Regions from separate parts of the Homo sapiens genome. Here all the other regions are linked to region 1. The links come from fine-mapping of genetic effects on gene expression. A gene starts in region 1. Each other region holds a variant in brackets. All regions are shown on one strand. Distances are from middle to middle.

Region 1 (6,210 bases):
TCAAGATTCATGCTCATCCTTACAGTGAAATCAACCTTAGTGTTGCAAATGACATTTCATTCTACATATGAAATCTGATTTTCCAATTAGAATGAGGAGGGGTGGGGTACGTGTGATAGAGTATAGATGACTGATCTGTATGGTATATACAGTAAAGATGTCATAAAACTGAGATGGCCGTGGGTAAGCATGTGTGCTGCATAGCCAGATCGCAATGGTTTGGAATCCTGGCCCAATCACTTATTAACTACATAACCTTAGCCAAGTTTATTCGCCTGGCTAAGGACTGGTTTTTGCAAAATGTGAATAATAACACCTAATCCTATAAAGTGAGATTATTACTCTCTACTTCATAATAATAATAAGGGCTAAATAAGATATACACAAAACTTAATTCAGTACTGATACACAGTAAGAACTGAATAAATGATAGCTATGATTGTTATTATGATTATTATTTTTATCATCCCTATGCGGCCTAGTTATCGGCAAAGAATTAACTTCTTTGTAACTTTGTAATGTATTTGTGAAAGCCATGACCAAAAGTATAGAGGACATTAACTTCTTGTGAGGCTTCCATGGCCTAAACTCTGTCCAATAAACATGGTCTTGATGATCTATCATTACTGTGAAACAAAATTCCTTAAACTGTAGAAAGTTTCAGTGAGGCACCAATAAATACAGCCATAGAGAAATCTCTCCCTTCCCCTATACACACACACACACCATCTACCCCTTGGGGATATATTAAAACTAAGACAACTGAAATAGCCTTAGCCAGTAATTAAGACATGCAGCTAATCAGAGAGCAGCGCAGGCTGTGGCCCTCTACAAAGAAACGAAGAAACAAAACATTAGGATGATAGCTCTCATTACCAGGGCTTTGTTCTCCTGGAGCAAAAAGAGCACAAAAGCATAAAGTTGGAGAACTGTAATTGCATTTTGAACATTTGCGGGGGGAAAAATTACAGGGTTGTCTGAACCGGGAGGATGTTCCACTAGATAACTGCGTCAGTCCACACCCACCAGCGCCCTTCCCCACCCTCAAAGCATGACTCCACTTTTTCTAACACTGCCCTTAAGGAATCTAGCTTTTGTGACTTCCAGTAATTGAACAAATCAACCATGATGAAGCAGCTGAAGAGCACTTTAAACAAAAGAGACAAGAATTAAGCAAACAGAAAACTCATTACAATGCTGCCTTTTGCTTTTTTTTACTCCTAGAAATTCATGTTACCAAACAAGTCTTTCTTCATTGCTCTTCTTCAGAAATAATACTTTAAGAAAATTCTAAAAGGCACTAAGTGATTTTATCCAGATTTATAATCTAGCTACAAGACATACTTTCCCTTCCCCCATCACCATCTAGCACTCTTCCCTGTCACCTTAGAGCTTTCGACTTAGATGTGTTCACACCCAGCAGTCCCAGCAGAGCTTTCTGCTCACATTATATGACATAAAAAAGCAGGCAATGAACAATTCATGCTTCTAAGTGCTTGCGATAAAGCCAGGCTGAGCTGACCTCTCCCATCCTATACAGCTGCATGTCAGAAACATAAGCTTAAAGGACTGAGAGTAGCAAGCATGTGCGTGATGTGGTATAAACAAACAAATTAAAACCTGAGGCCTTTCCTCTGGCTGGTGCCTAATGGGACTAGCATACTTAACTCTGTGCAAAAAAAAAAAAAAAAAAAAAAAAAAAAAATCACTCCAAGCTAGCTAAAGGTATTGCTTTTCCTGCTTTCCATGATATATCTCTTTAGCCCCAATAAACAGACTAAAAGAAGAGGAATTCAATGGTTGCCATTCTTTCGTGTAAGACTTTTTGAGTAAAAACTATCAATTTGGCAGCATTAAGCCACAAGACCACTCCCTGATTCTAAGTGGACATATTGATCAATTGAACTGACATGTGCCTCCTCCTTTCTCTCCCCTAGTAGCAATCAGCTGTACCAGGGAAATCCATTTCATTTCCCAAAACAAAAGGCAACATTCTGCTCCTTATCTGACACTGTCAGACTAATTTTTTAGAAAATAATAATAATAATAAAGATGCCTAAAAACAGAGCTAGGAGTTGAAATGAAAATGATACGTGTTTAGAGTTTTGGAATTGAGTTGAGGTTATGACTGAGTCCAGAGGTCTGTAATCCCTACAACCACTGAGGACCCTGATATTTATTCATCATACCCAGATTTTTGTTAAAGTTAAGCAAGGGATGGCAACACCACTGCCACTTCAGAGGCTCTCCCAGGGTTACCCTTCACTGCAACTGCCGCAGAGAGGAGACTTGTTCCTTTCTCAGTTACAAGTCAGCCTGCAAACAACTCCAGCTATTTCAGAGACTAGCTAGAGATGGAAAAATATGTGGCAGTCTTTCAACTAACTCTGAAGGACATGGGTTGAAGAACTACCATATAGATCAAAAGGCTCAAATAATTTCATTTGGTTTAGGTTTTTATGCTTTTAATAAATTCTGTCTTGAATATGCAAGAGATCCCCTTTCACATCAGGGTTATGTCAAATGCTTATTCAGCATTTGTTCCTTGCCATGAAGAAACTGAAACCCAACCGAGGTAAATAATGAATTTCATACTGCAAATCACTGAATATTTCATAATTCACAAGAGCAAAGAGGGGGCCAATTAGCTCTGCCTCCCAAAAAGAAATCTATATTTTTACAATGCTTAAATACTGTTAACTACTCATTTTAAAGCTTATCTGGGGTTTTGCAATTGAAAAATCATCTTATGTTTATGAAAAATTCTGTAAGAACACTTAAAAATAACAGACAGAGCTGGAGCAAGAATAATTCTACATATTTTAATTCCTATATGACTCTTACAGGCCTTTGTCTTAACCCGGCAGCCTGAAAAACGATTTAGGTAAAACAGCCCTTCTTTCCCCAGTCCATTTTAAGCAGAGACAACATCCCCCAATCTCCGCCTTAGCAGACACCGACTAACCAACAAAACAGCCGTGCAATTAAGGCCCAGACATTTAACACTCACCATCTCCTGATCCCACCGTCTTCTTTTGATGTTTACAGCACATCTGTAGGATGCAATACTAGGAGATGCCTTGTTTGACCTGCTGCATGATGCTGTGACATCAGTTCAGATGATGCAGCTCATTATGGGAAAGACTGCTGTTGCTATGGCAACTGGGATGTGCTAGGAATCCTTGCTGCATTTCCAGTGGAGCCTGAGACAATACGGAAGCCCTGTAAGAAACAGACGATATGCAAAATTTAGACCAAAGGAAGAGGATTCCTCATTGGACTAAAATCCATAGGTTTAAAAGGGATTTCCCTGAAAGCATTTTGGAAAAAACAAAAATTATCTCCCCCTTTGTTGTTATACATTTAGAAAAAAAAGGTGGGAGGAGAAAATAGAATTAGTACTAAGCAAATAAAAACTGAAATGTACAATGTTTCCTTATTAGACAATTTGATCACTTTTTCCTCCCTGGTCAGCACTGGGATAGCTTTTTAAAAGTTATTAAAAAGAATTTTTGCTCATCTGTCAAAGACCAAAAGAACAAAACAGCGAGCACAAAAATAATTAAAAATGGAATATAAACAGCTGACCAAATGACTCTAACTCTCAAGTAAACAAGTTTTAATTCTCAAAACATGGGCAAACCCTTGGCCAATGAAGTCTGTCCTGGTTATTTTCCCTGATGAACACCAACCCACAGAACCTTCCCATGCAGAATAAACCCAGCTTTCACCTGGTCATCAGATAGGCAGCAAAGGGAAGTTTGGAATCTAGAGGGGCACAACACACCACCCTCAACTTCTACTGACCCTTCCTTTGGCCTGCAGGGAACCCCTCCTTCTCATGGCCAAAACGCATGTGAGTCTTTTCTGGGATCAAACCTAGTGGTTGGAACAAGTAGCAGACCTGCTAGAAACTTCCTAAATCGTTGGCATTCCAAACATTGGGGTCTGTTTTCTTCTTTTCTGAACAATAAAACTGCCTACCACACAGATTATTTGTGCCCCTCCCCAACCCCAAAAGCTGGAACTGTGTGAAAAGCCACATTTAAACAAGACACGGTAAGGCATTTCTCCAGTTGGTAAAAGAAAAGCAAATCTAAAGCAATCACTTCTTTCCAGTCCTGAGCAGAAATCAACGTCATGTGGTGAGAACTGGGGAGAAGGAGATATGGACAGAGCAGCCTATGTTTTGCATATTTAATATTTGCAGGCCATTGATAGAGAAAAGCAGAATCAAGTTGACCTGTATCCACTCCGTCTTCACAACTCTGAAAAAGAACAACATTCCAAAAGCTTAAAACATGAGACAATTATGTTGTCTCCTCCTGCTTGAGATTTTAAAATGGCACTGTTAACCACCAGCATAGGCGGTGTGGGATGAGTGGCAGAAGGAATTCAGGCAGTGTCTCTGTAAACAGGAGCTAATAAAATGCCTGAGAAGTGCCAATATCCCAGCAGCGTGCACCATCAGCCTCGCACAGAGCAACCCTGCCCTAGATGGGAAGACAGACTTGTTCTTGCTTCATCTAGAGAGGAATTAAGAGACCAAAAGCAGGAGGTGAATCTGCCTGCTTAGGTCCTTTGTGGCATCAGCAGAGCCTGACTCCCTCCCTTTATCTTAGACCTCAGACCACATGCCACACACAAGGGGAGAAGTAGCAGGCAGCTACCCCAGTACAAAGAGTACAGATCTGAGAGTCAGGAAACCCAACTGTAAATGTCAGGTCCTCCTAGAGCATCTGTGTGATATCAGGCCAATTGATTAACTTCTTGGGGCCTCAAGTTTTTCATCTGCAGAGATGATTGATTTAGCTAATAACCATAGTTTTCAGGTTTTTCATTAGTAATATAACCTTTCTTTTAATGATACAGATCAAAGCTGGACTGCCTTGGTTGAGGCAAGATAAGAAGCCCAGAGCCCAGACTGATGAGCCATTCTCAACCACTGCCTCCAACCTCATTTGCTGTAAGCTGACTCTTTAAGATACCTCTGAAGAACCCTTCAGTCTCTGGAGAAGATAAAGAGACATGGACCTATTACAGAACAAGATTAGTCTTTCCAGAGCTGAAATCCACATGCTATAAAGAGGAGAGGACAGGGTGGGAGCAGGTGTTCCAGATTTGAATATGGCTTCTCAAGATGGTAAGAATCTTGTTAATCTTTTTTGCCAGAAGCAAGTCAATCATTTGATGGGAAGAAATGGATGGCTCATCAAACCTGAGGCCAGGTCAAACTTTTAGCAACCTGGACTAGCTAAATTGCTTGCCCACAAAATGGCACTCACCAATGAAACGGAAGTAGAAGTGGAAACCATCAACTCCAAAGGTGGCTAAGACCAAGTGTCTCTTCTTCATGTTTTCCTGTCCTGCTAGCTGGATGCAAAGAATCCAGTGGAACTCTGAAGCCCAGAAAGATAATGGCCACACATTGTGGATGGAGCCTGGGTCCCTGAATGACTGCATGGAGCTCAACCATCCTCTCCCAACTACCTATTGACCTACACTGGGCTGCAATGAGTGAGAAACAAACACCACCAAGATTTTGGGGTAGTTTATTCTGAACAAATTATCCATTTATAGATAAAATTATAATTTAATAAAATATAAATTTTCTAACAAGATTATATTATATATCATTATTTATGATAAAGTGACAGTGTTAAAAACATGTTCCTTTATTGCAGACTTTCTTTTTTTATTTTATATTACTTTAAGTCCTGGGATACATGTGCAGAACATGCAGGTTTGTTACATAGGTATACATGTGCCATGGTGGTTTGCTGCACCTATCAACCCATCATCTAGGCTGTAAGCCCTGCATGAATTCGCTATTTGTCCTAATGCTCTCCCTCACCTTGCCCACAACCCCCCGAAGGGCCCTGGTGTATGGTGTTCCCCTCCCTGTGTCCATGTGGTCTCATTGTTCAAATCCCATTTATGAGTGATAACATGCAGTGTTTGATTTCCTGTTCCTGTGTTAGTCTGATGAGAATGATGGCTTCCAGCTTCATTCTTTTTTATGGCTGCATAGTATTCCATGGTGTACATGTGCAACATTTTCTTTATCCAGACTATCATCGATGGGCATTTGGGTTGGTTCCAAGTCTTTGCTATTGTAAATAGTGCTGCAATAAACATACATGTGCATGTGTCTTTATAGTAGAATGATTTATAATCCTTTGGGTATATACCCAGTAATGGGATTGCTAG
Region 2 (6,210 bases), 100 kb after region 1:
ACCAATGACCTAGGGCTATAGCATTCACACAGCAGTGGTTTGATATGCTTTTTCCCCCCCCTATTCTAGGACTTACTGACCAAAAGCACACTGAATTATTTAGGAACCTAGAGACTGGATGACCCAAAGGTGAGGAAGGTGGACCTTTCCCTCTGTCTTTAAATTCTCTATTCCCCAAGTATGCCTCTCTGTGTTTGCCTTCTAGCTCTCTGGCTACTCACAGTTAGGTTTATTTTGTACCTCCCTTTCTGCCAAGACAATAAATGTTGGTATTTCCTTGAAAAAATGCATCTACTCCCATATCTATTCCCATATCTACATCATAAACTCCCAAATTTGTACTTCAATTGATAGCTCTCTTCAGAACTTCAGGTCCATTCATCCAACTGCCACCTACACATCTCTAGGATGTCCCACAAGCTCCTCAAACTCCAACTGTAGAAAACTGAACCCACTGTTTTCTCTACCACCTTTCCTCACCCATTTCTTTCTATGGTCCCTGTCTTATTGATGGCACCACACTCCATCACTGCCCAAATCAAAGACCTGGGAATCATGCTTCACCCTTTGCTCCTCCTCACCCAAACTTCCTCACATCCTGCCAATTCCCTCTCTTGAATCCATCTACTTTTCTCCACTCACTAGCCTAGTTCAGGCCAAAATCCTCATTTCCCCAAATTGCAATAACAGCGCCCTTACCTGTCTTCCAATCCATTCTTTACATTAAGCCCAGTAATCTTTATAACATATATATCTTAGCATGTCACACCCCTTGCTAAAAACCCTTCTGTTACTCCGCTCTGTTTTAGGGTGAAGCCCAAATGCCTTCACCAACTGAAGAGACCTGTACAAGTTGGCTTTCAGGCTGGGTGTGGTTGCTCATGCCTGTAATCCCAACACTTTGGGAGGCCGAGGTGGGCGGATGGCTTGAGGTCAGGAGTTCGAGACCAGCCTGGCCATCATGGTGAAACCCCATCTCTACTAAAAATTAAAAAAAATTAGCAGCCAGGCACGGTGGCTCACGCCTGTAATCCCAGCACTTTGGGAGGCCAAGGCAGGCAGATCACAAGGTCAGGAGTTCAAGATCAGCCTGACCAACATGGTGAAACCCCATCTCTATTAAAAATACAAAAAAATTAGCCGGGCATGGTGGCATATGTCTGTAATCCCAGCCACTCAGGAGGCTGATGCAGGAGAATCGCTTGAACCCGGGAGGCGGAGGTTGCACTGAGCCAAGATCACACCACTGCACTCCAGCCTGGGCAACAAAGTGAGACTCCATCTCAAAAAAAAAAAAAAAAAAATTAGCTGGGCATGGTGGTGCACGCCTGTGGTCCCAGCTACTCAGGAAGCTGAAGCAGTAGAATTGCTTGAACTCAGGAGGTAGAGGTTGCAGTGAGCCACGATTGTGCCACTGCACTCCAGCCTGGGCAACAGAGTAAGACTCCATCTCAAATAATAATAATAATAAGTTGGCTTTCATATACCTCTCCAGCCTCATCTCTCATCAGAATTCCTTCACATTCCATGTTTCAGCCACACTGAATCTCTTTCCTATTCTCAAACCTGCTGCCTCCTGGCCTTGCTAGAATCACAGAATTGTAGAGAGGAAAGCGACTGAAAGATACCAGAATCAGAACTCTCCACCAACTTGCTTCTTACCTTCAGAAAACTCAATCCAGTTTATTATTTATTGAGTGTCCACCAAGGGTAAAACACTATCTTAGTAGCTGCAAAGAAACTTAATGAGTAGGTCCATGTCTAAAGAGTATGCAATCTCATTGCTTTTCTTAAACTTGAGTTTAAAAGTTCAAGTTCCTGAAATTTAGCTCCCTTCCTCAAACCTAAGTTCAAGTTACACTAGGAAACGACCTGTCCTTGACTAAACTGGCTTGAGCCTATATACAGTTTTACCAGAATAAAACTTCCCTGTCAATCCAGAGCCCACATATCTCCTCGCAATCTGTATACTTCAAGAGAGCCTTCCAACATAGCCTCACCTGGCTGTTTAAGCTTACATTAAAAACTCTCTAGGTTTCTGTTGGCTTTCTCAGCTGTTGCTGAAAGCACTACAATTGGCATCAATCACCAGGGATTCTCAGGAACTAGAAACTCTGCATTTAGTAGGTATATTTTGTTTGGTATCAGTCAGGGCTGAATAAGAATTTTTTTTTTTTTTTGAGACGGGGTCTCCCTGTCACCCAGGCTGGAGTGCAGTGGCTTGATTTCTGCTCACTGCAACCTCCGCCTCCCGGGTTCAAGCGATTCTCCTGCCTCAGCCTCCTGAGTAGCTGGGATTACAGGCACGTGCCACCATGCCTGGCTAATTTTTTTTTTGTTGTTTTTAATAGTGACGAGGTTTCAGCATGTTGGTCAGGCTGGTCTTGAACTCCTGACCTCGTGATCTGCCCGCCTTGGCCTCCCAAAGTTCTGGGATTACAGGTGTGAGCCACTGCGTCTGGCCAGGATTTTTAAGTGTAAAATTATGAGGCCCCAAAAAGGGCGTGGAGGCAAGAGCCATCCAGAAGAAATTTAATAGCCAGCATTCCTGAATTGCTCCTCATGACAGAACAAAATGATGGAGCTAGGCAAAGACCACCTATCTGGAATCAAAGGGCTGTATTCTGTGTCTTTGCTGATTCGGGAATGTGCCTTGATAATGGAGACAAAGATCTTGGTGGTAGTTTTCCTTCTTCTTGGTAGGCTTAATATTACTACCGTTGAAAAAAGGCAACCACTCTGGGCAAATAACAAAAAGTCTCCCCTTCCTCCTGACTGACTGAGGGAAGGGGCACATACTTGGGTGACTAGAGATGGGCTTTGTGCAGGGACACTGCATGTCCATGCAGACTTGGTCCTTTATGACACCTCTTTGCCCACCAAATTCATGGCTTTCACTACATAAATACATGAAATACTATCTCAAGTTTCTTAACACCCAGACCTAAAAAAGAGGGAGTTGACTTTCCAAATAGAGAAAGTGGCTATAATACATTTTTGCATATATCTTATGTACTTGGAAACTCATTTGAAGTTCCCTAATGCTGCACTATCTTCATTTGTTCATAATGGCCCATCTCTCACCATCTCCATCAGTGAAGCAGAAATTTGTATTGCTCTCAAACACAACACAAATAGAATTCCCAGCAACCGGAGTTTTATCCAGAAACAGTAATGAAACATAATAATCCCAAGCTGACAAGAAGCCCAATGACTATTAATAGAGAGAAACAATATGAAAGTGTCAAATAGGGTAGAAAGCAAGCTACAGCTGGGTTGAAACACTAACTTATTAGGAATAGAATGTAGAATCAAGTGGCAAATTGTCCTACGTCTTATTTTCTTTGCTTTTTGTTAGTCCTGATTGATCCCCATCCAGTTCACGATGGGACACATACTAGCCTAATTTGATTTGGGAGCCAACAACCCAGGTTGTCAGATGCTCCTGTTAAGGCAGGTCCCAGGCCCCAGTTTGGCTGAGTGTTCCTGGGTCTAAGATACCTTTCCTACCATCCATTGCAAAGTGGGGTTGTGTGTATATATTAGCAACAGCAGTAAGCATGACAGTGAAAAGATTAGATGTGGCACCAATTCCATGTTTTACCTGCATCTTTAGAGGACTGAAGATTCTGCTCCGAGGGTAACAGAAAAACCCCACAGAACTGCACATGGAGTGACTTTCATATTTTCCAGACTTTCTGGCAAGGCCTTATTGCTCAAAGGACATTTGAGTGGTTAACACTCAAGTGGTTATA[C/T]TGCATTCCATCTAAGAACCTTTCAGTGAGTCTTTCAGTATAAGGAAGCATCAAATAAAGGAACTACTGATTTACAGACCAAAGATATGTACTGAGTTTAGAAACATTCAATTATCTTATCTGTGGAAAACAATGTACTTAGCACCAGCATGAGGAAGAGCTTTAAAGATGACAGAGACACAAGAACACTCCCCTCAAGGAACCTTACAAAGGAAAGAAACAGGCATTAACACCAATAGAAAACAAGAGAGGAAGAGAGTCCAGATGTCAGGGGCTGTGATTGCTGAAAGAGAACCAAATTTGGAACTTGCCATATCATCAACACCTTTTATGTATTTTTCATTCCTCTAGAGTAAAACCTTATCTCTTCTTACCTGTCAAGAAGAGAAACTACAATAAACAGAAATATGTGCCTTGGGGAAGATTTGTCTGTACTCTTTTGCTATTCCCTGGACAGAGACCTGGAGGCCTATTTTCAAATTAAGTTGGTTATGATGTGTGTGAATGATACGGTTAGTAAGACAAACTAGGCAATAGATCAAAAAGATAAGAAAGACCCACTAAGGCAAGACTGTGATCCACCTGCCAGCAGTTACCTGAGTTCTATAGCAGGGCTAGGAAGGACATATACCTATTGATCCAAGAAAATGGCACCATAACTGCATGCCCCAAGGCTCTGTCAGTATTTAAACCCTGGGGAGACAGTAATTGTGGTCCTGGCAGGAAAGCCTGTGAAACCAACTGCAGAGCTTCCCAGTATACTAGATTTGAAAATAAGAGGCTTTGCTGATAAGACAAGTGGAGCATTGAAAGTAACTTGGGATACTGAAAATCCTCTGCCAGACTCAATTCAGCTTGATTGTAATTGTTGACTCCAGGCCTATCTCTGAAAGACATCAAACACAAAAAGAAAAAAAAAAATCTGAGAAAAAAAACACAGCTTATTCCATTTGGGGGACAGAAATTGAGACATGTAACAGATGGAATGGGGAAGGGCAAAGGGCTTAATAAGATTCACTACAGGATTAGGCTTTCGTTTGATTAAAACCAGCCTATGCAGGGCAGAGGCAGAACAAAATCACACGGCTCTGACTCATCATGCTTCAGCGTGTGCAGCCACCACCAGGGGGGCAAGACCAGGTGGAAGCCATATATGCACAAGCCCTGCTAAGCAGAATCATAACTGGTGGACTCGGCTCTGAAGGTTTTGCCTTACTTTTCCATGTTATGAAAGTCTAGGCTGAAGAAAGAATAGCTCATATGGTACTAACATAGAAGCTGTCGGCTTTACATTCTCAGTGCCTAATGCAGTGGCAGATGCATCTGTGCTTGAATAACTGTTTTTGAATGAGCAAAGGCCTAACCTCTCAGTTATGTCCATGAGGTCCGGGAGGATGTATAGGTATAGTCTGTGACTAAATGTTCTGATCTGACAGTCCCATAACTTTGTAGCAGCATAATCAGTAATGCCCCCTTTCATGTGCAAAAGTGTGTCAGTTTTCAACTTACCAAAGACCTCTCCCAAAAATTAGTGATAATAAAGAGAAGGAAGAAAAGAGAAAACCTATCTTTCTACAAATAAATAAATGAAAAAATAGCTTGAGTAAGGTCTACATGTGGGTAAGGAGATAGAGTTTCAGCTCTGTGAATTTTTCTTACTATCAGAAAAAAAATATTGACTTATGTGCTTGCTTTTTTAAGCAAGCAGTCTGATTTACTCCTGGGACTTATATCTATTTCCATTTATTTAGATTACCGTTTACACCAGCAGGATTCAAGAACAATTCTATTTTGTTCAAGACAAATCATCGTTCACTCTGGGAAGCCCAAAGACATCATAAAAATAAAGAGATGTAGCAGGAAAAAGGAATGTTAATAAGAACTGGATCCACTAATGGGTTGGGATATTTATGTTTTTTACCTTTTATATTTTACATAAATTTTTTTCAACCTTTCTCTCAGACCACGAATAGGAGTTTATTATCTGGTGTGTAAACCACTTGTGAGCTTCTGGTATGACTGCTAACAAGAAAATAATATTTTCTTTCTTAAGAAAACAAAGCACAAGACTCATTTGGCCATATCAAATGCAGGACTGAACTAGAAACCTTGAAAAAATAAACGCAATTTCACATAGTATGGCATAAAGTTAGACTCTGAAGATATGGTTTGGAATTCTACTCTGTCTATTCCCAAGTGGCCTTGGACAAATCTCTTGGAGCCTCAGTTTCTCATCTGCACAATTAGGGAGTTGTTTGCTAAAGCTCCATCCATCACTGAAGCTCTATGAGTCTCTGACTTGATCATTTGGTCAGTAAGAACTAATTTCTCCCATCAGCCTTTTAGAGAAGATGGTTCGCTCCCATTCCCTATGCCCACATGCTACTAGTCATCTTCTAACACTCTGAAAAATAGCCCATGGAGGGGCATGGAGGCTCATAACTGTAATCCCAGC
Region 3 (6,210 bases), 390 kb before region 1:
TCCATTTCCCAACCTAAACAAACACCTCTAAACACAGCTATTTCTGTTGAATTTGGCACTACTACATAATTTTTTAAAGTTTTTTTTGAGACAGGTTCTTGCTGTGTTGCCCAGGCTGGAGTGCAGTTGGCTATTCACAGGCATGATGAACACACACTATAGCCTTGAGTTCCTGGGCTCAAGTAATCCACTTGCCTCAAGCCTCCTACGTAGCTGGGACTACAGGTGCATGCCACTGCACTCAGCACAACTACTTAATTTAGAATTTTCTAATAACACAAAATAAGATGAAAAGGAAAAGAAAAATCTTTGATTCTAGCTGTTCTCCAAACATAACAAAAGAAAACACTTACCTAATATGTGCTATAAGAAATCCAATAACAAGTTAAGTGTAGTAAATTAAAGTCCACTGAAGAATTACCATTATGCAAACTTCAAACACAACAGTCACATTCTTCTATCTTCCATGACCTCTTGTGTGGACAGACTACTATTTGCCTAAAACTTGATTGACCATCTATCTCCTAAGTTAACTATGATAATGAAATGAGATAAAGCAATGATATGCATATTTACATCTCTAAGCTACTAAAACCATAAATATTCACTTGCCTTTAGTCTAGGTGCTAAAATATACCCAAATATCTATAAAAACATAAATGTTATTTGCCTTGTAAATTTGAAGAATAAACTTTAAAAGATGGTGGCTATGTCTTCTTTAGTTGACCACAGAGTATCTTGAATATTTGAGACCCTCAGAAAGCCTTGAGTCAGTGAATAGTTTCTCAAACTAAGTGATGTATGAATTGCTGTTTGTTGTTTTAATATACAATCAAAGGAGAATTTATGTATCATAGGTTACCACATATCTTTATAGCTGAATTATAGGCCTGTTCAGTGCAAGTATTTATAATGAAAATGCTGAAGAAGCCTGAACTATGGATGTGTATGGTTGTGCAGCAGCAGCAGCCATTTCAAATATAGATTTATTTTTAGCATTAGGAGGCACCAAGTTTGTTTAAATCTGGACTTTTTTTTTTCTACAATTGCAAGTAATGTTAATAGCACACTGTAAATGTGAAGGCTAAGTGTGCAATGTCAAAATAGACTGGATCTCTCTGAAAATTGGAAATTCAGGCTTTTCAAACATAATCCAGATGTTTGGCTTTTATTCAGATTTCAAGAAAGAGGGAACTAATATGATATAAAATTCATACATGCATATTTCATTAGTGCCTTTTGTATCACTGAATTAAACATTCTGAAACGTGCTTTTCCCAAATCACATAGAGTTTTAAACCAAAGCAGTTGCCAAGATGCTCCACACCTCAAAAATAATGCCAAATTAATTTCATAAGGAAGAAACTATATATTTCTTATGTTAACTCTGTTGATATTTCCTCAAAGAGATATCTTGCTTTCTCTCTGAGGATAAGAAGAAAAATGAGAAGTAGAACACTGTAACCATTGTAGTTTATCAAAAAGGTGTTGCTGCAGAACATGGTGACTTTTGAAATCTATGAGAATCAGTTGCCTAAATAAAGGCTGAATGTATTATCGCCCTTACTGTCATCATCAAAAAACTATCTTTTCAAGTTTCATGCAAATGGGCATTCCCCAAGGACTAAGGACTCCAGCACTGAGAGGCTGCACCCAGAATTTACCATGCGATGGTAGGTGTTAAGACAGAGCTGATCAAAGCATTTCCAGGGTTGCCTGTTCCCAAAACACAATGCAAGTGCCATTATACCTTTATGTATTCACATTGTGACTTTTTTTTTGGCAGAGTATTTTTAATTTTCAAAGGGTTTTCACATCTATAATCTTAACAGATCCATAATGCTATGGAGTTTTTCTTGGTGACTGCTCAAATCCCTGTATAGTGAAAATATCTGATTTCTTATGCTACTTTTTAAGAATATCTCTGGTGCCTTCACTTCAGATGAGGATAAGTATGGTTTCAGAATTAGATTATAAGCTTCTACAAGGGACTGTAGGAGGTCAGAGACCACATGTCATTCACTCTTTACCCACTGTAATTCTTAGCATTATGGTTTAAATGTAGGAGGTTGTTGGAAAATATTTATTCATTTGAATTTCTCCCAAAAGAAAGTCCAGGCAGATATAGAGAGCTGTTGAAATATATGCCAGATACAGTGTTAGTACACAGAAATGAGTACAGTGTGATTGCTTTATCTTTGAGCTTCATTTTCTGTGAAAAACTTATTTGGTGAAACATCCAATACAGGAATATTATTCTCAATTTTCAGACAGAAACCATGAACAAAGTTAATTGTTTATCATGGCCATGAACGGTTAACACAAGAAAAGCTTCTGTGAAAACCTATCAAAGAAAAGAGGAAGGTGGCAGTAGTTCTTTGAATATTTTAAGGGCACCTTTTATGAGGCAGTGTTTTCTCATAGCAAGAACATTTGATCAGAATGCGAAAGGCTAAGTCTAATTTTTAGTTCCGATACCAGTATGCTACAGGCTTAAAAACCATTCTGTTCTACCCATCCCCTGACCCCTTGGGCCTTTTTGTTTCTTTTGGGTACCTACCCATATTTGTCAGAAAAATATTTTGACAAAATAAATTTTAGAGATTTTAGGCTTTAAGGCTTAAACGCTGCTGCTGCAGCCTCAGAAAGCTTGACTGTCATTTCAATGGATTGTTCTTTTTTTTGCTGTTCTCCTATGGCAAGCCCATGGGGAAAGTTAGTAATATTACTTCTGTCTTACAGATAAAAAATTGATACATAGAAGCTAAGTGACTTGCCCAAGGTCAGTAAGATTGTACTAAAATCCACAAATAGAATTTCAGGAGGAATTTCAGCTTAGCTTGGTAAGCCATACTACTGCTCTTGAAAATACATCTTTAGATCTCAGTCCAGAAGTCTGAAGAAATTGGTGGGCCCTAAGAGTATAATGTAAATAAAGTCAAGAATGCCATACAAAGTGACAATGGAGTGGCCAACACATACTTAAGAACCCTACTCTTGAACCTCTTTAGCCAGATTCATTTGGCGTAGGCTCATCCTCAAAAACCCAACAGATTTTTAATAGCCTGAGGTTGAGGCTAAAAGGGCAGATAGGAGAGTTCTCACTGATGGTCATGCCTGTCACTCAGAAGAATGACAGTTCACAGTTTAAAGAAGCTCTAGGGTACAAGTGGAAATTTGTTGGTATAAACTAAGACCATAGAGAACAAACCTTGGTTATAACTGCTTTTGAGCACTTTTTCAGCTATGTAAAGGAGTCTGCTATAAATATTCAAAGAAGTTTCTCTTACATCGAAGAGAAACAGAATGTGTGTGTGTGTGTGTGTGTGTGTGTGATAAGAGACAAGAGTGATAAAAGTAAAGAGGAGGAAGAAGTGAAAATTTGGAGAATGTAATGATGGAGATGCATAGATGCATGGAGAGAAAGTTAATAAGTAAATAGGGGAAGTTACAAAGGTTTCACCAGATAGGAAAAACAATTCCTAGTCTACAGGGAATAAATCCTAAAAACTACATAAAAATAAACAGCATTGCAGAAAA[G/A]GAAGCAAATTACAGCTGGAGAAAAGGTCTTAGTGAATGGCTTCCCTGAAATAAACAGATGACAGAATATGATGTTGATGACTTAAACATTTTGCATAAAGGCTGAAAAAAATTCATTAAGAGGATATTAGAACCAAAAGAAGCAGAAGTACAAGGATGTGGCCATTTAGCACAGCTTATAGCCACAACAAGGGATAACTTTTCAAGAAGATGTGAGTACCAAAACATGTGATTTTTGAGAATTTTCCCTAAGCACCTTCACTGGGCACCATCAATCCTGCAACTGTTACTTCTGCCTTTGTTCTCTTGGTGGCTTGCCACCTGATCCACCTGATCCACCTGCTCCAGGGAAGGTCATTTCATATTTCCATGGTCATCCCATCTGCAAAACAGGGACAAAGCTATCTTTGCCACTTGTCTAACACAGGTATTTTAAGAGGTAAATAGATCATACTTGTAAGAAATTTTAGATCCCGATATAAAATACACCATTAATAAGAAGTCTTTGATTTTAACACAGATGAGTTTTGTAATAAGATTTTTTGGTTTGCTACCGATGTGAAAGCAAGACTGCAAATTTCCCATGGTTTTTATTTTCTGTCTTAGAAATAATGTATTGTAACTATTGTTATTAGAGATTGGCCATATTAGAGAGTAAAAGAAATCACACATCAGGGTGAAGTCATTAGAAAGGTAAATACAGATAGATAGATAGATAGATAGATAGATAGATAGATAATGTATACCATATAATATATAATTAATATACATTATATAATGTAGATAATATATAATTATATATATTATGTATTTTCTAAAAGACAGGAATATATACATATTTAGAGAGAGTACATAGTATATAGTATATATGTAGTATATACTAAATACATAGTGTATACTATAGCATATACTAAATACATAGTGTATACTATAGTATATACTAAATGTAATTGTGGTTTTTGCCATTAAAAGCAATGGCAAAATCCCAATTACTTTTGCACCAGCCTAATAGGATATAGTACGTAATACATACAGTGCATATATATATACAGTGACAAAGTTTTACTATTTTTCTTGACTCTTAATGAAGGGAGGAGGGAGCTTGTTGATATTACCTATTAATACTACTTCTTAAAACCTATACATATGTAACCATTTAATCGCTCATGAGTGATTAAACATAAACATGGTGACAGAAACCATGCCAAACATTTTAATTTGTAAATCAATGAGATAAAAGGCTATTGATTAAGAAAATTAAAAAAATTAAATATATGCCTGGAATCAGACTGCCCATATTTAAACTTTGCTTGCATTGCTTACTAGCTGTGTGCTTCCCTGTGCCTTAGTTGCTCATTTGAGAATACTGTTAATACTTCATTAGGTTGCTGTGAGGATTGGATAAGCCAGTATCTGCAAAGATCCTAGAACAATTTCTGTTACATAGTAAAGACCATATACAAATGTTTGTTCAAAATTTTCTTAGCATGCAGAGTTGCATGCTAAGAAAATATGATCTCTGGCATAACTTTTCTCATCTCTTTTATGCCACTAATTCCTTATTTGTATATATAACTTCTCTTCACTATATGAAACATTGAATCTAGGAATTCACTAGAATTTTAAAAAAAAATCTTTCCTTTTATTGACTTTCACTGAACACATGGGATAAAAGCTATATGGTTTGTCACTGATTTTCCTCTTCTCCAGTTTGTCTTCCTGTTTTTGGTAAAATCCTAGGAACATGCCAAGCTATTTCCTAGATCTGAGGTTTTTTTCCCCCTAAAATGCATTATTTTGCAATGCATCTATCTCTATTCCAGTTATTTAAATTCTATCCAGTAAGGTTCAGTTCAAATATCATTTATTCCATGAGGACTTTCTAAGAAGACTAGCACTTATTTTTCATACCACATAAATTTGCTATCTTTGCTATTATTTCATGTTTTTTCGTTTTGCTTTTCTAAGTAGATTATAAATTACTTAAGGAAAAGGATAACCTCCCTTTATTTGGTTCTCCACAGCACACCATAGTATCCTAATGAATTCTTATTGTCTCATCCTCACAGTCACTAAAATGAGATAACATCATTCCTTATTCCTTTTAAGTAAAAGTAAAATAATTAGACCATTAATTCCTGATATATGTATTAGATGGACATATGTAATTTTCAAAATATATGTGATAAAATAAGAGAATTCAGGTGAAAAATGTCTTTGTGCTTAAACACACAGAAAGTGATGCAAACTTCATAAATTGTTAGTTGAATTTGACGCCAATTAGTACAGTTTGCAAGGTAGAAAAATTTGTAATCATTTTTTCCTCAAGCAAATATGAATCTGCCTTCGACCATATAGCTCTCCAGAGAAGCCTCCCCAGTAGGGAATTTGAAATTAGAGTGATTGCCTGTCACTAGGTCTCCCAGGGTGTAGACTTCGAATTCAAACGTGAGTCTGTTCTTTACCAAAATGCCTTAGGGACTATTCAGGTCCTTTCCTCATAGACAGCTAAATGTCTTTAGTCATATTTGCCATGACATCCAATGTGACAATTCAAATACTGTATAAACTACCAATGTGTGTACCACAATACAAGCAGAAGGTAAGAAAAGGTTGCTCATATATTATGAAATGACTTAGTTTCAATGGAAATGTAAGTGAATATATCTG
Region 4 (6,210 bases), 330 kb before region 1:
TGTGGTAATCCTGGGTTCACCTACTTCAGTTCACTGTTCACTAGGTACCTAGATAAATGCTTAAATCATCATTGAGAGTCATATTCTGCTTGATCAGGAATCACTTGGTAATAGGATATTGATACTTTGATAATAACATTCATACTTTCATAACTTGTGATTTCATGTATATTATCTCATTTGATAATCCCAACAACCTTGTGCTATGCACAGGTAGATCAGGTGTCATTATCCCCATTTAGCAGATGCAGAAGCCAGAGGTCAAATAAATTACTTTGTCCAAAGTCACATAGATAATGAGAAGAAGAACCAGGGGTTTCTGGCTCCAACTCCAGTGCTTTTCTACTCACCATCCTAGGTATTGCCTCTAACCAGTAGTCCTGAAACCATGATTTCCAGTCTCTAGCTAGTCCCTGACTGAGGCTGCCAGCACAGACATGGACAACTAAAAGAGCCGGGGTATGGCATCAAGTCTACTGAGTAAGGTATGTACTTGGGTCACTTTCTGCAAGGCCCAATGTACTTGTCTTATGAGTCTTGGACTTAATCGAAACTCTCTGCTCCCACTGCCTCCAGGAATGACACTGATTCTGCACCTTTGGCAGTGTGCACAATCGTGCATTCCTTGTCTGCACACTCTGATTACCGTGCCCTGTTATAGCTTACCATGCAACCGCTTTGTCACTCCTTCCCTTTAAATATCCAGGGTGTGGTAAGCAATGAAGCCTCATTGTGAGAATTTTTCCTTTCCAATTCTGATTGCTAGTTCCCAATCAGCAGCAGGATTTATTATTATACAATTATCACGATTTACTGATATGTAGGATTTATAGGAGGTCCTGTAGTAATTTAGAAATTTAGGGCTGGAGTTGCAGCACATGTTGAGCCCTTGGCTTCTCTGCATTTTGACTTCCTACTATTCCTTTCTGGAGACACTATCCCTGTTCCTTCTGACCTCCTTTCTACCTATTTGTCACTATTTCTCTACATTTCCCAAAATGAAATGTTACTCTCCCAGTGCTGAGTCTTGAAAGATAGAGAGGTCATGAAAAGTTAGGTGATCCTTGTGAGAAAGCAGGAGAGGGAGCAATGAGATATAGACACACAAGGACAAATGGCTGGAATTGGGAGGGGGGGGGGTGGCGGGGAAGAAAATATATAGAGCTAGAAATAGCCAAAAAGCTTTTTAAATTTTATCTAGGTCCCAGAAAAGCCATAAGATAGTAAATTAAGAAACAGGAATGGTGAATTGAGTTGTTAAATACTCCACTTCCCTCACCCCAGTTTAATTAGCATTTCCATATTCTCTGTGAACATCTAACCTTTCCATATACTCTCAGAATCTCACGTTTTAAATAGTATTCATGAATCGAATATCTACCTAAAGTAGATTCCAGGTCCAGATAGGCCTCACAAACTCCTTTAAAAAGTTTGTTCTTATTTAGAACCTGGGGGGAAACAAATGAATGTTCCATAATTCATTTGGCCAGGCTCTAAAGTCACTTCTTTTCAGAATTCCCTCAAATTCCTGAACTAGAATTTATTGCTCTGACGAACTTCTTCCTCCCACCAACCAACACATTGAAGTTTCTTTCCAGGCTTTTTGAGTGATTGCCCACAATTAGGAACAACCCAGCATACCCATTAGGTTGTCACTTCCTACCAGATGTTGTCCAGCTGTTCTCAATTTCTTTTTGCTAATGCTCTGCCATCTGCTACCTTAATGGTGGCACAATGGGGAAAGGCTGCTTTGGTGACTTTGCTCTTCAAGTTATAAAGACCTGGCCCATTGCCTCATCCTGGAAAGTCTGATATGCACATCTGTCACATTCCTCCAACTGGTTGTTGCATTTATTCCATCTACTAACTAGCCAATGTTAAACCGGTGTGACATGAAATATGTGAGCTCTCACTACCAAATCTAAACCTGCATCACTCTTCATTAATGGACACATTCACGTCTTATTTCCAGCTATCATAGGTTCTGCCATTAAGACAACAGCTAACATCTTCTTGTCCAATCAATACGATTCCCTTTTACCTTTCTTTATATATATATTTTTTTTAACCAGCATGCCAATAGCACATCAGTACAGTAAGCAGTTATGTGTCTTTTGTGTCACCTTGTCGGTTACACCTTATACATGGAAATCTTATGTTTGTTTGTTATTCTCTACAGCTGAATGAAGACAAATCTTAGCCCTCTGAGACTGATGGTAAGTTATCAGAGTCAAAGTCTGCCAAGGCACAGCAGTTATCAATGCAGATTTCCAGGGACTGTAAATCAGTGTGTAATCTATTTGTATATACTTATTGAGGAGATTATTGCTCCCTTCAATTATGGAAACTATTTTTCTGAAACCATCATTATGCTAGATGTCGAAAAGGTTAGTACCATTAGCTCATAATCCCTTCCAAAGGCCCAGTGGGAATGGTTGTTATTGGGACTTTGGCAAACATAAAAATAAGTTCAGGAAAACTGATATCCATACTAATTACAATGTACTTGTCTCCAGTAATCTATATTTTTAATTAATTATTTTAAGATTTGAGCTGTCACCACGTGATGACTCCATGTCTTATCTTCCGAAATAACACCAACCCTTGATGGCTCTCTTAGATGGACAGCTTGTTTAAAGTATTTGTGCTTATGGTCACAAGGCAGATCTGCTTGCAGTACAGTCAGAATACAAATCTAGGACCAAAAGAGGATGTTAACATCATCCCTGACAGCACAAACACATGTTCTTTGGTTTCATAACACTATTTTTACTTGAACAGGTAACTTCTTCCCCATTCCAGCTTAGATTTAACAGAAATTAATGAAAACGCCAATCTTTTATTTGAAAAGCAATAAGATCTCAAACAGCAGCTTCATGTTTTACTTGGAGCAGCCATGAATGTAGCAACAGCGGAATCATCGTGTGCTAAAAGTTCACTCATATCCACTTTAGTCAATAAATGTACTTACTGGTTTTACAGACATTTAAAGAGTGTCTTCAACTTACAAAACATGCTAGTGTCTTGTCAAATGTGCTTGTCTTTGTAAGTGATAAAGACAAGGTGCTTCTAGTTAGCAAAGGACACAAATTCTAACAACTAACTATAATACAAAACAGAATAATATAAAATAAATAAGAACAACAAACTGAAGCTCTGGTAGTTGGTTGAGAATTGGAAAATACTTAATGGAAGAAGTGGTGTTTTCACTGGGTCTTGGTGAGTAAACAGAATTTTGGCCAGT[A/G]AACAAGAAAGAAATATAGTTAGGCTTTTTTTTTTTTTTTAAAGAAGACTTTAAAAATGAACCTACCAAACTCCACTGTGCTTCATATAATCACTGATATTTTGCACCCCTAAGAGTGTTATTTAAGTTTTCAATGCAGTTAATTGAAACCCTACTAGATGCAAATCAAAAGTTTCAGCCTTAATTGAGATATTTTGAAAATTGAACCCATTGCTTCAGGCAGGTGCTACATGAGATTCCATTAATATAGGTAATTAACATTAGCCTCTGCTTTAATTAACATGCATACTTTAATTAGCAAAGCATTAACCAACATTAAAAAATCTGATCTTCATGCATCACAAAAAACTGCAAAGTTATGACTACTATGTTATTTTTCTCCAAGGTTGTAAATCACAAAACAGTGATCACTTCTGAAGTACACATCAAATTTAGAATATTAAACAGGGAGATATGTACAATATGAGTGAAAACATCATTAAAATAAAAAAGGATGCTCTTTAGAAATTATAGAGCCAACAGCTTTCACATTTTAAACAGGAGTTACATTGTAATCTCTCAATGATCATTTGCAAGGCAGGAGACTTTTGGCTTGAAAAATCCCCATAGACTGTCGTCTTCCTTATATGTAATAAATCAATCACTATATAGAGTAGCATTATCTATGTGACCATCTACCTCCTAACCTCTTCTTATCTTTCTCAGGGATCAAAGAAAGCACCAGTTTCTGAAGACATTTAATACCTGAGGTCTCAGACTAGCACAAACTTCATTTTTAAAACAATCTACGTTGCCTTGTTTTATGTTTAAGATCCAAATGTGCTAGACTAGTTCTTTATTGTCAATCTACCATGTGTGCGACCACCAACAATTAAGGATGACTTTTGTTAAATATAAAATTGGCATTCATGTTCTTTCCTTACTATGATAATTAGATGTGCCAACTTTCAAATCCTGCTCATATGCTGTATAGATTTTTTTTATTACTTTAATGAAAACAGCATCATCATTATATGGAATAGAAGTACTGTAGAAATGGTATCCATGTAGCAGATCATTGTATTCTTTTATCCCAAGACATGATAAAATTATGGTAAAAAAAAAAATGGTGAGCTTTTAAAAACATGTACACTCACAGAAAAAGTAATCATATCCTTCCTGATTAAGCATTAAGAAAAACAATCATAATACTGCAGATAGATCAAAATTAAAAACAACAAAGTCTCTAGTAAGCCCGTGCTGGATATAAGGCAATATTTAGACACAGAGAAATCTGAAAGACCATGACAAAAAGTGTCCTGGATCTCATGAGCTTTCGTTTAAATCTAAACTGAAAATCTCAAAAATTAGGTCCATTGTGGTAAATGTTGGTGTAATGAGAGAAAAAGAGCTAGGGAGCAGCACTCACAGATTTGTAGGCTCATTTGCTGCTTTAAGCTGTTACTAACATTGGAATTGCTTCCATTGACTCTACCGAGGGTTGCGCTTCTCTCTTCTTGTTCCTGCCACGGGTTATTTCATCACAGCCACTACAGGGTCAGCATGAGTCAGCATCTTCTCTGTACTCCTTTTCAACTAACAAATGGGGAAATGAATGTTTCTTGGGTTTGCAAAGCCATACCCCAAGTTACAGTGATTTTCTTGACCTTTTTCCCTATGTCAAATCAGAGCCAGGGCTCCCAGGAGATCATGCAGGATCTGGCCATTCTTCTGGATCTGCGCTGAGGGCAGTACCCTGTAAATAGGTGCAAGGACACCTCTCAGTTCTGTTTACGTGAATTTGTGGAGTCTTTATCAAATTCTTCCCCTATTCTATAAACTGTATTATGACAAAATTCCATATATTGGATTGCCATATGTCAGTACTATTTATGCTCTGCTAATTAAATTCAGTTGGGCTTTCACTCAGGAAAGGTATAAGCAGGATAAACAGAGAGAAGCATATTTACAGCCAGGGCTTTAAGAAGCATAGAACCCTGCTTTATAAACATGTGACAAACCCTCACGAACTTCCTTGTAGGTTTTAAGTTCATAGGGCCTTCCTTAGAGAAGTCCTTCAGAGATGTAGGAGTGGAACAATAGCATCAACTACTGAGCCATTTACTTAACTGGGTATAAACACAGGCATTTACTTAACTGTCAATAATATTTAAAACAATTGCCTATGAGCGAAAGATTGCTCTACACTAAACGTATGTATTCCCCTTCATTCTAGGTCTCAGAAAGTAGTCTTCAGATTACCAGCTTCAGAATCAGCTGGTGGGTTCACTAAAATGCAGATTCCCAGGCCCAGTGAGGACTGAATAAATCTTAGTTTCCCAGGTGAGTCAGTTTTGGCTGGCACTCCCAGGTGATGCTTATTCAGAGTAAATCTGGAGAACTGCTAAGAAGGAGAGAAACCACTGTCTTCTATTTCTCATACTACAGGCAGTGGTCATGAAAGTGAGCAAAATACTCTGTACCTAATCTCATAACTTCTTTGTAGATCACTGTGGGAGAAGAAAATAGGTTTTGTTGGGACACAGCTTTCATTAAATAGAGTCACCTTTGATAATTAACTAAATTTGATGGGCAGATAATAAAAGTCACATAAAACAGAAAGATTTATGTTTATGTTTAATATATCTTTATAGTCATACACGCTATAAATATTGCTTCATGAGTGCATTTTAAGCATGAGATTTTTCCAAACACATTTATTTAAAAAAATCCAAATTAGTTCTGTTGGTATTCTACTTTTAATACTTACTTTATCACTAGATGGCTAGATTTTTATTATGTTTCATGTCAACCAACTCTGACTTTCACTGAAATATCTAGACGAGAGATATTTATCTTGAGAAAAACAGATAGATTTATCTTAAGAGAGACAGATCTAACATACATTGACTTTCTTTAGATTTCTGATTATATTCTATAACATGATCACCATAAATCTGGGACAATATGGTCCATGCAACCTACCT
Region 5 (6,210 bases), 360 kb before region 1:
GTGATTCTCTATTGAAAGCCTGGTGAATAAGTAAAGCCCAGATTCTTCTAAAACACTGTGATCTGAAAATGAAAGTACAGAATGAAAAACTATGACTTTGTCCTTTACCCCTCAAAATCACCCCACTAAAAGAAATCCTACAGTCTTGTGAAATTGTAACTGAGCAAAACCCTATCAGTACTAATGAGGCAGCAGCCTCAGGTATGAATCTGAATTTTTCAGTTGAGTATTTTATTACTACCTGTTCTTGTCTCTGTACATTAAACGACTGCTTTCCGTGAAAATGAAAATCCACTTTTAATAACTTATAATTTAATCTTAATAGATCTGTCAAAAAACTTAAGGTGTGCCTGGTGATGGGGTGGGGGGGAATAGATCTAGGATTGCCTATTTTATTTTAATTACTTTATCATAACTATAAAGATCCTTGATTAGAACTATAAGCACCCAAGGGCAAGCATCAACATTGGCTAACATGTGGAGTTTATTAATAAATGTTTACTGGATGCCAATGACGGTTATAGTTGATGTAGTTAAAACCTTTAGTAAGGCTATGGTGGCCTAGAGCAGTGTTTCTGAAACTACAATGCACATACGGTGAAACTGATCATCTTGTTATGAAGATATTGATTCAGTAACTGTTCTAGGGTGGGGCTTGAGATTCTTCATTTCTAACAAGTGTTGGCAACACTGCTGGTCCATGGACCACGCTTTTTTTTGTTTTTTTTTTTGAGACGGAGTCTCACTCTGTTATCCAGGCTGAAGTGCAGTGGCACAATCTCTGCCTACTGCAAGCTCCGCCTCCCGGGTTCACACCATTCTCCTGCCTCAGCCTCCCGAGTAGCTGGGACTACAGGCGCCCACCACCACGCTCGGCTAATTTTTTGTATTTTTGGTGGAGAAGGGGTTTCACCTTGTTAGCCAGGATGGTGTCGATCTCCTGACCTCATGATCCGCCCACCTCGGCCTCCCAAAGTGCTGGGATTACAGGCATGAGCCACCGCGCCTGGCCCCATGGACCACACTTTCTGAGTAGCAAAGACCTCCAGCATATATGTGAAATCTGAACTAGTATCCCATTTCGAAAGACTAAAACAAAACAAAACCCGACCACTATAAAAGAGACAAATAAAAAATAAACCATCTGGTTTTCTTTATTGACTCTGTGACTAATAAGGAATAACTAATAAACATTTCCTTGAGAGGTATAACCATTTAGAAATACTTCCTGAATTACAGTCCCTATTTCTCTCTCCTTGCACCCTCCTATATTTTAATCATACAGACAGAAAAAGTGGAATGCCACCCACAAAATTAGAAGAGTATCTGATTCAAGGGATTATTAAAGCAAAGGGGAAAGGAAGAGAAAGCTCACCCTTTCCACGTCAGAGGATTTGGAGAATAAAAAATAAGGCAGGAGGAGCAGGTGCTCAGATGTGTGTTCTCCTCTCTCCTGGCCTAAGACCTAGAAAGGAGGCATGTGAGACAGGTTGAGAAAAAAGCCCAAAGCATAAGGATGTCAACTTCATTTCCAGGTCAGAACTCTGCGAGGAAATTGCCTCATATATTGTCCCCACAATAACCTGGAGTGGGGATGTTGTAGACAGAGAGAGATCTTCGGTTAGAATTCTCTTTGCTCTGTTGTTCTCTCATTCTCCCAAGAAGAGACTCCAGGGTTCTTGAGAGGTCAGCTGGTGAACTTGACAGAGGCATTGCCATGACAACAAAGGCACAATGACGGCCTCTCCCCAACAAAAGGAGAGCCAGGTGGGCCTCTCAATCCAGACCACAGAGAGTTGGCAGGGTCAGTGAGGGCTGAGTTGAGGCTTAGTCAGCAAGAAATACCACCGGTCCCTGACCAAGCCAAGAGGTAACAACATAAGCTAGACCAGCTACAGCCCTCTGTGGGAGGAAGCCTCATAATATCCTTGACAAGACCCATTTCAATAAGCCCAGCCAGACTGTACCTAAGCACTGTGTTAAGCCAGGGGACTCCACTGCACCCCAGAATTACAAGATCATGTAAATCCCTATATGCTCAGATGTCATCTTGGAGAAAAGAATGGAGACAAATAGAAAATCTGAAAAACAGAGTATTGATCCCAAGAGAGTATTTCCTAAAGAGAATGTTAATTTATTAGAGAGGCTATAATGTGTCTAAGAGCCTGAACTCTGATCTTAAAGCAAGTATTTTTCTTGCTTTTCTAGGAAAGTGTGAGTGTAGGGTGCCTCATAAAAATGATCAATTGGCAAGACAAAAGAAAGAAGCTTGTTTCTTTTTCATACATGTGCACCACTGAAAAAGAAATTTTGATTATGACTAAGAAATTCAAGGGCAAGAGATAAATTTATTATCTTTGCATCCTCAGTGTCCAGCATAGTCCCTGGTGAATGATGATAAATGAATCTAGATAAAGAAAACAAAAACCTTCAGTGGGGCAAGAATGACTTCAGAAAAGCAGCATGTGTCAGCAGACACAACAGTATCTCATCGCCAAAGACCAATACCAATACAACCAGTGCAACATGAACAGGCTGCTTTACTCATTCTTTACGTGAGATTTTGTTTTTACTATATTAAAATGGTAAATTCACTTACTTAAAATGATTATATGTAGTAGATGTTAAATCAATGTTAATTGCCTTCCCCTTCCTTTCACCTCCTCCTCTTTTTATAGTGAAAGATAAAGGTTTATGAACATGAAAATTATTAATGAATAGTTTTCAAATAAATTAAAAAATATATAAAATAATAAAATGTTCTGAAGCATGGGAATTTTTTCACTGGCTTTTTAGCATGCATTTATATCTATTGAACTGTTTCCTTCTATTATTCTCCTTATCATGGGCCTTCGAACAAAAGTCACTTAAGACTTTTTCTCAAACAGTCTACACTGGAGACCTGCAAGTAGCAAATGAACCTAATACAGATACTCACCCTTTATCCAGTCTAGTTTGTTTTCATCCTAGCTGAGAATATTTAGACTTGATACTTGATTTGTTAGATACAGTAAATGCCTTGGTACCACATTTTGTTTCATTGGTACCCAATGAGCACCAATGTGCTAAACAACAAATTCTCACAAAGTCTCAAAACAGAAGACAAAAACTTTTTTCTTAAAAGTATTTGTGCCTGATTTCAGATTCTTGGCCATGTGTTAATCCACAA[G/A]TTGGAAAAGACCTGAGATTTTTCCACATTTAGTGAAATCAAACATATAACAGTGGCAAATCAAAGCCAGGCACAGTGGCTCACACCTGTAATCCCAGCACTTTGGGAGGCCCAGGCAGATAGATCACCTGAGGTCAGGAGTTTGAGACTAGCCTGGCCAACATGGTGAAACCCCGTCTCTATTAAAAATACAAAAATCAGCCAGGCATGGTGGCACATGCTTGTAGACCCAGCTACTTGGGAGGCTGAGGCAGGTGAATTGCTTGAACCCAGGAGGCAAAGGTTGCAGTGAGCTGAGGTCATGGCATTGTACTCCAGCCTGGGCGACACAGCAAGACTCTGTCTCAAAAAAAAACAGTGGCAAATCAGAAATAAATTATTGAATTTCTTTGTAGGTGCTTTTGAAAGATTCTGAAATGACCACAATTTAATGTCCCCAGTATTATAGGAAACTTCTTAAGTAAGGAAAGAGTTCACTTTCTTACATTTATATTAGCTGCAAAGGTGTGTTTTTTGAGTGATTTTATAAAAGACAATGTGCTCCAGGAAAAGCTCCAGCTACTCTGCAGGAAAACAGAGAAGATCATGAACAAATGAATTTATCAAGGGTAGGGGAGAACTAGTTAACAGTTCTATATTCCCTTGGAGAATATGCTGATTCTATCAGCTGAATTCAGAACCAGGATCTTCTCTTGAATTTCTCATGACAACTGCTCTCATCTCTCTCTTTTGAAGGGAGAGAGGTGATTAAAATTGTGGTGAGTAGCTTATAATCTTATAGGAATACAAATATAAGAACTATGAGTCCCTTTTGGAGGGACTTTCCTCATAAAATTTTCTTTGTAATTATGCTTGGGTTTATGTCAATGCATTCACTCTCATTTGTGAGCTCCTAGATGTTAAAAGGCCTGTTAGGATACCATTGTAATACTCTATGAATATGTTACATTTTCTATGAAAGTGTTATAAAGCAAACTCATATATACTCTATGAAAGTGTTATAAAGCAAACATTTAACCAAAATGTATTCTTTTTGATATTTCTTATTTAACTTGCCATACACTTGATCTTAAATGGGTTCACAATAAAGGAGTTGGACATTCTGATGTAGGTAGCTTAATCATGTTATGGGGAGAAAAAGTCTTCTAACTTGAAGTCAGTTTTTCTTAGACAAATATAGAACTATAAATGTATTTGTTTTATAGTTTAAGCATCTAAACAGACAAGGCTATAGAGAAATAGATGTGCGAAATTTTTCTTTAGTGTTTATTTTTAAGTTTGGGTTGAAGCACTATGGGTAATTGCTCTAAGTATTTCATAACATCTTACCCACCATTTTACTTTGCCTTATTTAAGGTTAAAAAAGATTCCAGGGCTTTTATAAATAAAAAAATACTAACAACCTTATTTAGTATCATTTTTCTGCAGATTTGATGGTAATATATTACTTGTGAGGCCAGCATAGTTTAAGAAATAATCCTTCCTCTAAACCCTGATGGGAGTTATATTTGACTAGCTAAGTGTTTGAATACATAAATGCATTCAGCCTTTGGTATTTAAAGTGAGCATCATTAACTCAACATTTCAACTTAAACTTTGCTTAAACGATAAAGTTTCACCCAAGTGAAATCAATGGGAGGTGTGTGTGTGTGAATATATGAGGTTTCAACTGGGCTCACTAAGGAATTTTGATGAAAACAGACAACCAAATTAAGAAATCATCAAAATAGAGCAATTATTGGTTGAAAAAAATATATAACACTAAAAGTCCTCACAGGTTTTCTACTTAAGGCTGAGTAATCGTGTGTGTGTGTGTGTGTGTGTGTGTGTGTGTGTGTGTGTGTGTATTTTGGGGCACTTAAGAATACATCTTTTGTATGCTTAATATTAATTCACACTAGGACATCTAAAAACACCAGACTGGTTCCTGAAATACCACCTGTCTATATTGGGAGTTCTATTAAATGATCCAATTTTCCTAGCTTCTTTAGCATATTGATTCCTTCCCCAAATATTCACTAAGTGTTCGCTGTTCACATTATTTGCCTAGGAAAGTTTGCCTCTGGCTTTCAAAAAAGACACGTAAAGGAGTGGTAACAAAATCTTGCAAAAATATAGTTTAAGTATTTTACTGAAGTAAAATACTAATAATAGATCAGAATTTCCCATCATCCTCTACTCCATGTGTCATATAAGCACAGAAGGGAGATATAATAGTGGTGCCTGTTATATCTCCAACCATAATATCATCAAAGAATAAAATGTAGCTTTCCAGACATGGAATCTGATATGCACAGTTGCATGTACAATCCCTTTCCACTCTAAACATATGAAAGTGTGGACACTAATTTACTATTTTGAATGAAAATTCATGAGCAACTTCCTCATGAGAAAAGCAGCCTGCCTTTGCCATTAATAAATAAAAGGAATATGGAGTTCTTTCTAGCAGTAATTTCCTCAGTTTTTATATATACCTACGTACATGTGAACAGGTCTAAGAAAAATAAAATCAAGCCTACAAACTTGTTAATAACTGGCCCCACTTTCTCGTGGACCATCTGTCCACCAACACCTATTATTGAAATAAAAAGCATAAAGCACCAAGATAATCCATTAAAAATTCTAACCAACGAGATAATCTATAACATTAGAAACATCAGTGTAGATTTCTGGGTGTATTTAGAGGATTCTGTTACACTATCAGGAAGTCAAAGGCTCATCCAAATTTTTAGATAATATGCTGGACTAAGTTCTAGCCAGGGAAACAGAAAACATTCTGAAGAATTTTTAAATCAGTAGTTGGAAGAACAAATGGAAAAATGTACTTCAAAAGACAAAGAGATGATTTTTTTAAAAGATAAACCGTCCTATGTTATCATTTGTGTGTTAAGAGGGGAATGGATCCAAACCTAATGGCACACTGGTGTGAGTTGGGCAGTTCACCATTTCATAAAAGGATTACCCTATTCTAGGCCTCACTAGTTTTCCAAGATGTAATAGGCAATATATCAACAACCTGTAAATAATTGTCTGTTGCCCAA

Which allele goes with the higher level. Positions count from the first base shown, and alleles are read on the strand shown. Sizes are in standard deviations (SD) of each study's normalised expression. Not every link is listed here.
With allele A in place of G in region 3, the expression in testis of the gene that starts at base 3,121 in region 1 is lower (small effect, 0.30 SD a copy in GTEx).
In carriers of allele A in region 4, the expression in fibroblasts of the gene that starts at base 3,121 in region 1 tends to be lower than with G alone (small effect, 0.18 SD a copy in GTEx).

The links. PIP is the estimated chance that this variant, and not a neighbour inherited with it, causes the effect. A credible set is the group of variants that fine-mapping cannot tell apart.
Region 2: its variant is the best candidate, but not a certain one, in a credible set for the expression of AKAP6 in thyroid (GTEx, PIP 0.73).
Region 3: its variant is the best candidate, but not a certain one, in a credible set for the expression of AKAP6 in testis (GTEx, PIP 0.71).
Region 4: its variant is the best candidate, but not a certain one, in a credible set for the expression of AKAP6 in fibroblasts (GTEx, PIP 0.72).
Region 5: its variant is the best candidate, but not a certain one, in a credible set for the expression of AKAP6 in testis (GTEx, PIP 0.67).

The regions. Positions count from the first base shown.
Region 1 is chr14:32,326,209-32,332,418 of GRCh38, reverse strand. AKAP6 (A-kinase anchoring protein 6) reads right to left here and starts at 3,121. Exons shown (of 14, transcript NM_004274.5): 1 at 3,011-3,121. RefSeq lists an enhancer at 862-1,156.
Region 2 is chr14:32,223,824-32,230,033 of GRCh38, reverse strand. No RefSeq gene overlaps it. Among named protein-coding and RNA genes, the nearest start is that of RNU6-8, 24 kb to the right of the region's middle. The variant C/T (reference allele first, on the strand shown) is at 3,756.
Region 3 is chr14:32,714,734-32,720,943 of GRCh38, reverse strand. All of the region lies in intron 9 of AKAP6 (A-kinase anchoring protein 6), which reads right to left. Among named protein-coding and RNA genes, the nearest start is that of NPAS3, 220 kb to the left of the region's middle. The variant G/A (reference allele first, on the strand shown) is at 3,541.
Region 4 is chr14:32,655,855-32,662,064 of GRCh38, reverse strand. All of the region lies in intron 7 of AKAP6 (A-kinase anchoring protein 6), which reads right to left. It overlaps LOC124903298 (a long non-coding RNA gene), which reads left to right and starts at 1,560. Exons shown (of 3, transcript XR_007064109.1): 1 at 1,560-1,648; 2 at 2,180-2,216; 3 at 5,460-5,548. RefSeq lists an enhancer at 4,688-4,757. The variant A/G (reference allele first, on the strand shown) is at 3,245.
Region 5 is chr14:32,688,882-32,695,091 of GRCh38, reverse strand. The region is part of intron 8 of AKAP6 (A-kinase anchoring protein 6); the gene reads right to left. Among named protein-coding and RNA genes, the nearest start is that of NPAS3, 250 kb to the left of the region's middle. The variant G/A (reference allele first, on the strand shown) is at 3,170.